Regions from separate parts of the Homo sapiens genome. Here region 1 is linked to region 2. A link means that fine-mapping ties the variant in region 2 to the expression of a gene that starts in the linked region. Tissue or cell type: prefrontal cortex. Region 2 holds a variant in brackets; the other region holds the start of a gene. All regions are shown on one strand. Distances are between the middles of the regions.

Evidence for each region.
Region 1: BMPER starts here. The variant in region 2 is fine-mapped to the expression of BMPER in prefrontal cortex (CommonMind, PIP 0.95).

The regions. Positions count from the first base shown.
Region 1 is chr7:33,902,443-33,907,819 of GRCh38, reverse strand. It overlaps BMPER (BMP binding endothelial regulator), which reads right to left and starts at 2,281. Exons shown (of 15, transcript NM_001365308.1): 1 at 2,074-2,281; 2 at 917-1,002. The coding sequence starts at 2,206.
Region 2 is chr7:34,036,867-34,042,243 of GRCh38, reverse strand. The region is part of intron 6 of BMPER (BMP binding endothelial regulator); the gene reads right to left. Among named protein-coding and RNA genes, the nearest start is that of BMPER, 130 kb to the right of the region's middle. The variant C/T (reference allele first, on the strand shown) is at 3,356.

The DNA of each region.
Region 1 (5,377 bases), 130 kb after region 2:
TGCTGATCTAGCAACAAGTAGTCCTCTATCATTCTGGGGCTTTGCATTTGACTGCCTTAATGTATTTCCAACAAGGTTTTATAATGTGTAGTTTCTAACCAAATTTTGCCAAAAGTGATTGGCATGTAAAACACTCCTAAGCAAAAATGTTTACCTTGTAGGTCTATATTTCATCTCAGAAATTCTTATTCACATTACTTAATCTCCCCCAAGTGGTTACTTATTAGACTTATCATTAACTACTAAACTAAAATAAATGGAAACAAATTATTTTTTGAGTCTTCTAACCACTGATAGTGTTAACTAAGCAGCTGACAGCCAAGTGTCATTCTCTATTAAGGATGGAATTGTCCTTTCCGACTCATGCTTCCAAATCAGAAATAAAGACAGTATTTGAGGGTTTAGGGTATAACAGGCAAAGAAACCCGAGAAAGAAATCCAGAATTACATCTTGTCCTTATGTTTGTTTTTTGTGGCTGTCACCTCTCTTTCCCTTTGTCGCATACCTTATTCCTGACCTTCATACTTAAATCTTATCTCATCATTTTCCCACTGAGCTTAAATGACAGAACCAACGCAGAAAGTTTTGTTGTCCCAAGAATTTGGTTGTAGTAATCATTACTGGAAACAGACATTACAAACTGTCATTTCACCGAGACGTCATACAAAGCCTATCTGAAATTTACGTCTATAAGGATGATGTCAAAGATAAGAATTTCCAGCTGGATGAAATGGAAATTGCCAAAGTCCATAAAACTCAGAAATTAACTGGATTCAACTCACAAACTATGTACAGTTATGTGCAATTTTGTAATGATAAAGACAATTTGTAAGATCTGGTTATATTATCACATTTAATGGATTCACCTTATCAGAGAGAGCAGTTGAGTTCATATTACCTGATCTCCACACTTACCAAGCAGACACACATTATGCAAGGGTTGTCTGTGATAAATGGAATCTGGAGGACTTCACCTTCATTTTCACATTTTGCAACAGAACCTGAAATTCAGGGGGGAAAAATGTTTCATTTAAAGTTAGCTTAGCAGCATGATTTCAACATTTAAAATTTTTACACTAATCCTTTTTGAAACCTCTACCCAAACTTCAGAATTCTTAATGTGGTTTAAATTATTAAATTCACCAAAGCAAAACCTCTGCCCCCAACTCCATTTTCAATAATTTTATTTAAACAGGTTCAAAAAAGAAAAGACTATGATATAGGGATAAATTATCTGTTCTCAGATGGTCTAAGCACAATTCCAAGTATTTCACTGGATTTTTAATAACACTCCTCCTTTATGAAGATATTTCAACTAAGCACACAGCCCCATACGCAAAGAAAAAAATAAAAAATAAAATTTAAAAAAACCCTCAAATTGGGGCAGATTTTAAATTGACCAAAACTCAGAACTGAGTCAATAAACAGGCCTTTCTATGAATCTGTCTCGCATTGTCTTAGGTTTAAATCACTTTTTGAAACGCAATCCCCTTTTCCCTTCTCTTAGAAATTGACTCCATATTTTCTTTTCTGCACCAGGTGTCAGTAAAGTATGTCCTTCAGAATAGCAGCTGAGGTCTTCACCTGCCTGAAAACATATAATTATTATATCCGGCTATTAGTGCCCTTTTTAAATGATAGTTTCTTTAAATTCAAGGTCTTGAGAGCCAGTGCTTTAAAAAGCACTCCTAGCACAGTGGATGTATTGCAACCCCAAAGATGAGAAAGGAAGATGTGCGGAAAACTGCACAAATTTTTTTCCTGAGTTCTACAGAGGGAAAGATTAAAATAAAAGTTGAGGAAAGCATTAAAAATAAATAAAATAATTTCTCAAATTCAAATAGAAGAATGTCTATTATTACTACATTGAAGGCAACAGCCTCTCAGCCCGCAACCTCTTCACCAGCCTTCCCAGCCCTCCCGGGGCTTCGCTTCATCCCCATCGACCAGCGCAGGGCAAGCGCCAAGGTGCGCGCTCCCCACCCTCCCATCCCCGGGGCAAGCCAGCGCCACCTTTCCCAGGTACCAAACCGGCGTCCCGGAGGGCCGGTCCCTCCCGCCCCCTCCCCTACCTGTCAAGAAGGAGGAAGCCAGAGACATGGGGACCCCCGAGCAATTGAGTAGCAGCAAGACGCAGCACGTAATCCCAGGCGAGCGGCGGCAGTAACGCTCAGCCAGAGCCCCGACGCCGGAGAACCAGAGCATCGTCACCTGGAGGGAATCCCTGGCGACTGCAGGTCCCGCGCCGCCGCCTCTGCTCAGCTGCCGCAGCTCACAGTCGAAAAGGGCTCTCAGCCGGCGTGTCGGGAGACCGTCCGCGAAGGAGGGAGGCGGGCGCCCGAGAGCTGGGGGGCGGGGGGGTGTGAGGGAGGGCGGGGGGAGAGACCAAGGTGTGGGGGCGCCCGGGGAGGAGGGGTCCTGCGGCCAGGCTCCTCCGATGCGGCTTTTTTTTTTTTTTTCCTGAGGGAGTTGCTTGCAGTGGCTTAGCAGTCAGCCCCTCAGCGCCGGAGAGGGGGCCAGGAGGAAGGGGTGTTGCGGCAGCCGGAGATAGACTGAGAGGAGCTGCGGCGCTGCCGACTGCGCACTGCCGCTCAGCCGCCGCCCGGGCTGCCGCTACTGTTTCGGGGGCTGTCGCTGTCGCTGCCGCAGCGTCCTCCACTCCCGCACTCCTCACCTCCTGCCAGCCCCGCCGGCTCTCGGCCCTCCCGGAGCGCGCTCGCTCCGCCGCAACAGACGTGGGCTCACCGGGCGCCTCCCGGAACCCGCTGGGGGCGCCCGGGCGCAGGAGGGACTGCGCGATAGCTGCAGCGGGAACTCTCTCGGCCCAGCTTCCAGTTCCCCAGCCCCTCCAGGGAGGCCAGGGCCCCAGGGCGCGGACCAGAGCCGAGAAGGCGCGTCTCCACTGTCCGGGCGAGCGCGGCTCCTCCTCCCTTTCTTGGGGGAGCCCCGGGGATGCCGCAGCACTAGCGCTCAGGCCCGGGTGCCCCAATCCAGCGAGGGAGCAGCAAACGGGACGCAGGGGCGCCCCACCACCCTGCTCGCTCCCGGGTGCCCCACCTTTGGGAAGGAGCGACACACCCGGGGCAGTAGGGCCCCCGCAACTTTTCATGCCCTGCTTTGCTTCCCTCTGGCGGGGGCGCGACAGCGAACTCAGGGGGCTGAGCGGACAGAGGGGCAAGTGGCCTTAGAGATGTGTTCTGTGCTTAGCTGTCTGCGCGTCCTGACACTAGGGATGACCGAAGTTGAAACACACACAAGGTCGATTTAAAAACGTACCGAGGCAAACGCCTTTCGTCCTTAAAAAATGAACAGTCGCTCCGAGACTCCTCCCTTCCAATCTCGGGCGGACCGGGGCGGGGAGGTGGTGTTTGACTAATCATTCATTCACCCGAAAAGAGGGAGGAACCCCCGCCCCACCGCTCATCTCTGGCGGGGGCCGCCGCGCGGCGGCCTCTGCAGCTCGGAGCTCCGTCGCTCTCTCAGCCCGGCTGCGCCCTCTCGCCTCTGCAGCACTGGGTGTCGGGGAGTCAGCTCCTGTGATCCCCCTGCTGAATCGCCGCCTCCTCCCCACGCAGTGGCACCCTCTACTCAAAAGGGGTGCAATCGCAGAGAGATGATTTTTGTAACCAAAGTACGAAGGCGCGAGGTGGGAGTGAGGGACGCTTGGCAAGTGTTGGGACCTGACGATCAGCTAGCTGTCCTTGAGCTCACGGTGGACTACCGACTTCCTCTGTCCAAGAGTTGAAACCGGGTCCCCACGGAACGGACCTAAGGGTCTCCAGGCAAAGTGGGTTGTTTCCATTGTGGAAACTACAGCTTTGAAAATAAATGAGTCTGTTTGCTGACAGGTTTAATCTAGCTTCACCTTAACCCTTCCCTGCCTCGTTGACTGTTTATTCGTTTTTTCGAGTGATTTGGAGACTTCACTTAATTAGTGCAACATTGCCAACATCGCGACACACCGAGGAGCTGATGCGAGCACGTTGCTGTGACGTGGGAAAAATAAGAGAAGGGAAAACTGTCATTAGCTTAGCATGCTCCATTTCCCTCCCAAAATAGATTCTTACCGTAAAATTTAAATTGAAAGAGAAGGCTGATGTGTGATTCCTTCCCTCCCTCCCCCCACCCAAATAAAGCCATGGCCAGGCAGCTTCTCGGAAACCAGTGTGTTTATGTATTTACTAATCATAAAGATAATATGCAAAAAGAGAAAAATCTCTAAATCCAGCCTTACTTCCCAGGGACTCATTAAAAAATAAATAAAATTAAAATTAAAAATTAAATAAATAGAAACCTTTATTGCTGCAGATAAGTACAATCAGTTGGAACCACTATCTCCTCTATCTAAAAAGATTGTCCCTGGATGAGGCTTTTAGATAAAGTTGTTTATCATAATTTAATTATGGAAAGCTGAAGAATAAGGAAGCTGGGAGACCTTTTGTTGCCTTAGCCATAAATTTGGATAAATGCATGCTATGAAATTGCAAGACATTTGAAGGGTGTGCCTGAGTTACTTTGATATGCCTTCCCTCCCTGACACCAGCCAAACATCCTCAGAATTTGCATGACAAATTTCTTTATGATAGAATCTAGCTGTGTGTGGCATTTCCATAATGTGCAGCATGGTGCTTTGGAATGCACTGGAACTCTCCCTGTAGGTGCAAACCCAAAAACCACCTTAAAAACATTTTCATCTGTCTGAAAGTTTGCGAAGGGGAAAAATGCACAGAAGCCTTTGGCAAACCTGTCTCTTCTTCCTGTTTGTTATAAGCCTCTGCCACCAGCGATTTCCCTTGCTGCCTTCTTGGCAAATGGGCCCTGCTTCCGAAAGAGCAGCCTTTTCTCCAAGGCCTTATCAAGATGTTTTCCCATGCATCTACTGCTGCCATCACCCCTCAAGTGATAGTCTATCAGCTGACAACTGGTCTCTGTCTACACAAAACGGAGATATTCCAGGGTCAAAAAGAAAAAAGAATGCCTGCACTGAAAAGCACACAGATCTGCCTTCACAGTTTAACTAAATAAATAGTGGTACCATCCAAATCCCAAAATGGCTTTGGCTGAAATCAAAATGAGGGGAAAAAATGTGTATTTGGGTCTGCTTATGACATTTTTCAAGGGGAAAGAGGTGATGGGGCCCAAAGACCAATGTTTAACTCTGGGCCTGTCCCAGTCTCAATTAGACAAAACTCTGTCTCATCTCTTTCTCTGGAAAATAAACTGTGAAACCTAATCAGATTAAAAGGGGCCAGGCCTGCAGTAAGAGCAACTTTCTTCATCTCCTCTCAAAACTACGATGCTAAATTCTCACTGAAAAATTCAACTGAACATACAACTTAGTCACGTGGATTCAAGTCTGAAAGATGCTTCTAGAGA
Region 2 (5,377 bases):
AAGTGCTTCTCTCAAAAATTAGCTATTTTTTAAAAAGAAAGATCTGAAACCTATGCCAAGTCTATTTCCGCTCCTTTATTTTTGTTTTAGATGATTCCATTAAGAACACAATTGCTTTATGTAAAAGTTTACCTAGAGCAGCAGGTTTGTGGCATAATAAAAACCTATCTTCCTGAATATAGTGATGGGTTCAAGACGATAAAACAACAGCCATGTGCATACACGATGCTTCTCCAACAGCTGAGTGCCCAGTGAGACTTGGGGGCTGAAAACCACCTTGTAGCGTGTGATGTGGCACTCATCTCCCAAACAGGAGCAGAGCTTGGCTCCCTAACAAGAGGCTGGGAGCAGAGTAGTGCAGTGCTAACCCGTTACAATGACTCAGCTACACTCTTCCACATTCTAGAGCAATTTTTCCTATGCCAAATTCTTTGGGGAAAAAAATAGAGTTCTCTATTTTTTTCTCTAGAGTTGCTTCTGAGATGGAAGTGGGAAGAAAAGAGAGAGAAGTTGGAGGGGGCAGTGTAGGGGAGAAATACGTCTTTAGTGCAAAGGATTTAAGTGTGGTCCATAATCTTACATCACATCAGCCTGTAATGAAAAGTTGATATGTGAGCAAAGCAACCAGTCTGAATTACAAATTGGGTCAAAAAGCTTCACCAAAAACCATGAATGTCCTTAGCCATGCCTTACTTTGGCCTAGAACTGTATCTTGCTAAGTTTACAGAGCATGACACTTAACTTCCTGGAGTAAAGATTTTCAGATTTGGTTTTCCCTGTTTTTGGTCTGCAAAGAATAGTCTAATCTACAAATCAAAGCAGAAGAGTGACAGCAGATGAGGTGGCAGACTGAGGGGACAGTAGCAGAGTAGACAAGGGGAGACAGGACACCTCCAATAGGTAGTGAGTGACAAGCCTGGGTTGTGCCAGGTACTGTGCTTAGGTACTTTTATCATTTTACGTAAGTCTCCAGAAGACCCTGTGGGCATGCTTTTGTCACCCCTACAGCAGAGAATGAGCCTCTAAGCCTTAAAGAAATTGCTCAGAAAATCTGCCACCCAACAAGTAAGTGGCAGGGTTGAAATGTAAATTTAGTTCTAACATCCAAGCTGAGTTATTTCCATCTAATAGGGCCTTTCCTTCCAAAGACCACAGCACAATTTCTCAGCTGGAGTGTGAAGTATAATCAAAGCGATGGCCAGAACTTTCTCTCCTTCTAGACGTCTCTTGTGTCTTCCCTGGTAGATGCTGGTTGTAGCTTTATGTCTGCTTTTTATCAAAATGGCTTAGATAAAATATATTGCCCACATTTTTGTTACTTACTTAGATAAAATCCAAATTATGCATCACCTTTTGCCTCCAGGGCTTTTTCCTTTCATGTTGTCTTCTCCTCCCACCTCCCTTCTTTCCTTCTCTCCCTCTTTTACATTTTAAACAAGATGCCCCTAATATGGAAATCTGAAAGTTTGGGACTTCTCTCTTTCTGCTCTTAGGAAGAAGATAAAGTGTTCACCATCCCCATAGCTAATTTATAATCCACTAACACAGGACCTTTACTCACCTCTTCCACTCAGTTGAAAGAACATGCTTTTGAATCTACAAATAATAATGGGCCATTTCCATGCTTTAAAACTTTTAGTGGCTCCTCATTCTATTCAGGGTGCTCAATCTAGGCAGTGGGTCAGAATCACCCACAGGACTCTTGTAAAAAAAAAAAATTATTGACAGCTTCATGTCCAAGATTCTAATGCAGAACCCAGGCAACTGTATTTTATTAAAGCTGCAACTATGTCTCAGTCGTCACTAAGCTATTGTCTCTGGACTCCAAACCCACACAACCTAATTCGCACTTTGCTTTCTGGTGTTGAAGCTGAGGCTCTGCATGCCACATTTCTGCTTTGCTAGCTTAGTCCAAGATAGGCTCTGCCTATAGGGGCACCAGATAAGGGACTGGTTCCTTCTGTTTGTTTCCCTTGGCCTCCTGTCCCCATTAATGCTTCTTCACCAGGCAGCAGCACTTCCTTCCCACATCAGCAACTGAACCCAGTTTAGAGATTTTCCAACATTTCATGCAAGTAAAACCAGCTTCATCTCAACATTCTACTCCAGCCAGCTGGCACTCCCTCCTCAGAAGTCTGAATTTCAGCTCCACATAGCCCCTCCTCTAAGTTTTAATAATTCTACTCTCATCCCATTGTTCCCCGACCCTAGAGGTGGTGGTATCATCTAGTAGGTGGCATTGTCACAATAACTTAGAATTCTCTTTTTGCCATTCAGTTACCTAGTTAATAGTTCTTTATATTTAATCCTCTATTTTCAAATAACTGGTATGGTTTATGCCTCCTGATGAGACCTTGACTGATACAAGATGTGTTCCTGATGAGCTGCCAAGTGTGGGAACTCAGCTTTCAGCCCACCCTAGATTTCTCAGACAGAGCTAGAGGGCAGTGCACTTACTGCCCCAGAGCATATAATACTTTAAAAACATTAACAGAGGTGTTTATATAGATATACACACATATATACATATACATATACATACACATATACACACACTATAGTAGGATACATCTGGGCATGTATACACCACAGTGGTATAAGTGTGTGTGTGTGTGTGTGTGTGTGTGTGTGTGTGTGTGTATTTGTGTGTCTTACCCACTAGATTAGAGTTCCTCAACCTTCACACTCCTGACATTTGGGGTCAGGTGATTATTTGCTTTGGAGGCTGTTCTATGCACTGTAGGATGTACAGCAGCATCCCTGGCCTCTACCTGCTAGATGGCAGTGGCACCCTTCATTCTCTGATTGTGACAATGAAGCATGTCTCCAGACATTGCCAAATGTCCCCTGGGAAACAAAATCACCTCCAGTTGAGAACTAGAGTACTAGGCCAATGATTCCTCAAACCACAGTCCAGGAATGCGCATTTTTAATAACTTTCCTGGATGAATTAAATGCCTCTGTCCAAGGCACTGTGCTTTGCCAAATGCTTCACTGGCATGAGCTTCCAGTAAGTAAGACTTAAAGCTTATTTATCTTATTCATTCCCCCAGCAGCTAGCACACATCATAGCTTCTAACATGTGCTCAAGACAAGTGTTCTGAAGGATGAAGCCCATTTTTCAAGTGGAACAGTTCTCAGTGAGAGAAGAACAGGCCTCAATTCACTTCCCTGGTGGCTGGAAGCCACTTTTCTTCAGGCTTGTGAAGGAAGAGGTCAGCGAGAAACAGTGCGGGTGGAGACAGAGCTGTGATCAGAGCTGACAGGGTAGAACTGTGCTTCTCCAAGGAGTCTGTGCTGAAACCAATGCAGGCTTTATCATAAAAATTTGTGAGGATCTTGGAAGCTTTCTGAC[C/T]CCCAAAACCTGGACATATGGCTACATATGAGTTTTGGTATCCAAGTGATGAAATAAAACTCAACTCTGATTCTATACATAGATATTCAAGAACATGTCAGCAAAGCTCGATGAAGACACTGATTTTATCCCATAAAAATAGCAAACAAAGACCCCTGAGAAAGGGTCTATGGGGCTGACAAAAACAAAAACCCTTTTGTACTTCACGACCTATTAAGAGAACTATGAACTAATGCCCTGTCTTGAGAACCAAGCCTGAAACAAATTCCTTTTATTTTGCATGCCAATTAATGTTTCTAAGTATAACTGCATTATTGTTATTATTGTTTATATTATTTTATTAAGTTTTCTATTGCTGCTATGATAAGTTACAAATGGAGTGTCTTAAAACAACACACACTTATTTTCTTACAGTCAGAAGTCTGGAATCAGTTTCATGGGGCTAAAATCCAGGTATCAGCAGGCTGCATTCCTTCTGGAGGCTCTAGAGAAGAATCTGTTTCCTTGCCTTCTCCAGCTTCCAGAGGCAGCCTGCCTTCCATGGCTGATGGCCCCCTCCTCCATCTTCAAAGCTATCAGTGCAGCACCTTCAGACCTCCCTCTGACTGTGCTCTCTGCTCATCATCACATCTCCTCCGACTCTGACCCTCCTGCTTCCCTTTTATAAGTACTATTGTAAGTGGGCAGCCCACCCAAAGAATCCAGGGTCACCTCTCCATCGCAAGGTCCTTAACTTAATCCTATCTGCAAAGTCTCTTGTGCCATGTAAGGTCACCTTCACAGGTTTTGGAGATTAGGACATGGACATCTTGGGGCCAGGGGATGCATTATTCTGCCTACCCTAATTATTATTAAATAAATGACATTTAATTTCTCTGTGTAGTCCCAAATGTCATATTTCAGGCCTAATGTGACTACAACACACCTCACCAAAAAAGCTAGTGTTTCTAATGCTTTCCTAAGGAAAAGATAGCCAAGAAGCTCGATTTAAATCCTGGTCTTATGGCTTGCGATCTGAGTAAGTTCACATCCACTTATTTTTTCTTCTTCCTGCACCCATGTCTAGTTAGAAGGTGAAATTCAAACCAGACAATCCAATGTTTTCGTCTTATTCGCCCTCTCCTTTTGTCATAGGCAAATTATAAGCGCTGATGGACAGCTTCAGGAGCAACTTTCGGTGTTAATGAAGTAAGAAAACTGTCTTTGTTGCCAACAGGTCTTTTCAGGGGCGCTATGCCAGTCTTGCTGGCCAGCACCAACCCCTTAAGTTGAAGTTCCCACTAAGCTGTGGGACTTGGCCAGGCACCCTCTGGCCCAGGCTACAGAGCCCTGCAGGGACATCAATGTCCTCTCATGGTCAGCTAGATGACTCCCAAAGAGTTTAACCATGTTTGCTATATTTCAAGATTCTTACAGAAAAATGCCTCAACCGGTCTCGGTGGAGGGGTTACAGAGCAGGCACTGTGAGGCCTCAGCCTGTGAATAGCACAGCTAGATGCCTTCTTTCTACAGCTGCACAAGTGAGCAGGTCCAGCCTGGCTATAGAGACAGTGTTAAACTTCAACTGCATACAGCGGCAGAGCCAAAGATCATAATTTCATAAAGCAAATATTAGATTATTAAATAAATACATGATGGAAATGTCTTTACCATAGTTCCACTAATCCCTTTTTTGTTTGTTTGTTTTTAAGAGACAACTTGTCTCTCTCACCCAGGCTAGAGTGCAGTGGCGCAATAATAGTTCACTGTGACCTCAAACTCTCAGCCTCAAGCAATCTTCGTGCCTCAGCCTCCCAAAGCACAATTACAGGTGTGAGCCCCACTGCCCAGCCACTAAACTCCATTTGAAAAGGGGATTTGGTTATTGTGTTTGCTTAAGTCTCATTTTTAAAGGTAAAATTGGCCTCATCTTCCCCTTGGAGTCCTTGATCTTAGCTCTTCCTGCCACTTAGCTGAATGGCAGTTTTCCTTGTTTGTTTGTTCATGTGTTTGTTTTCTTTTACGTTTTTTCTTTGAAAAAGA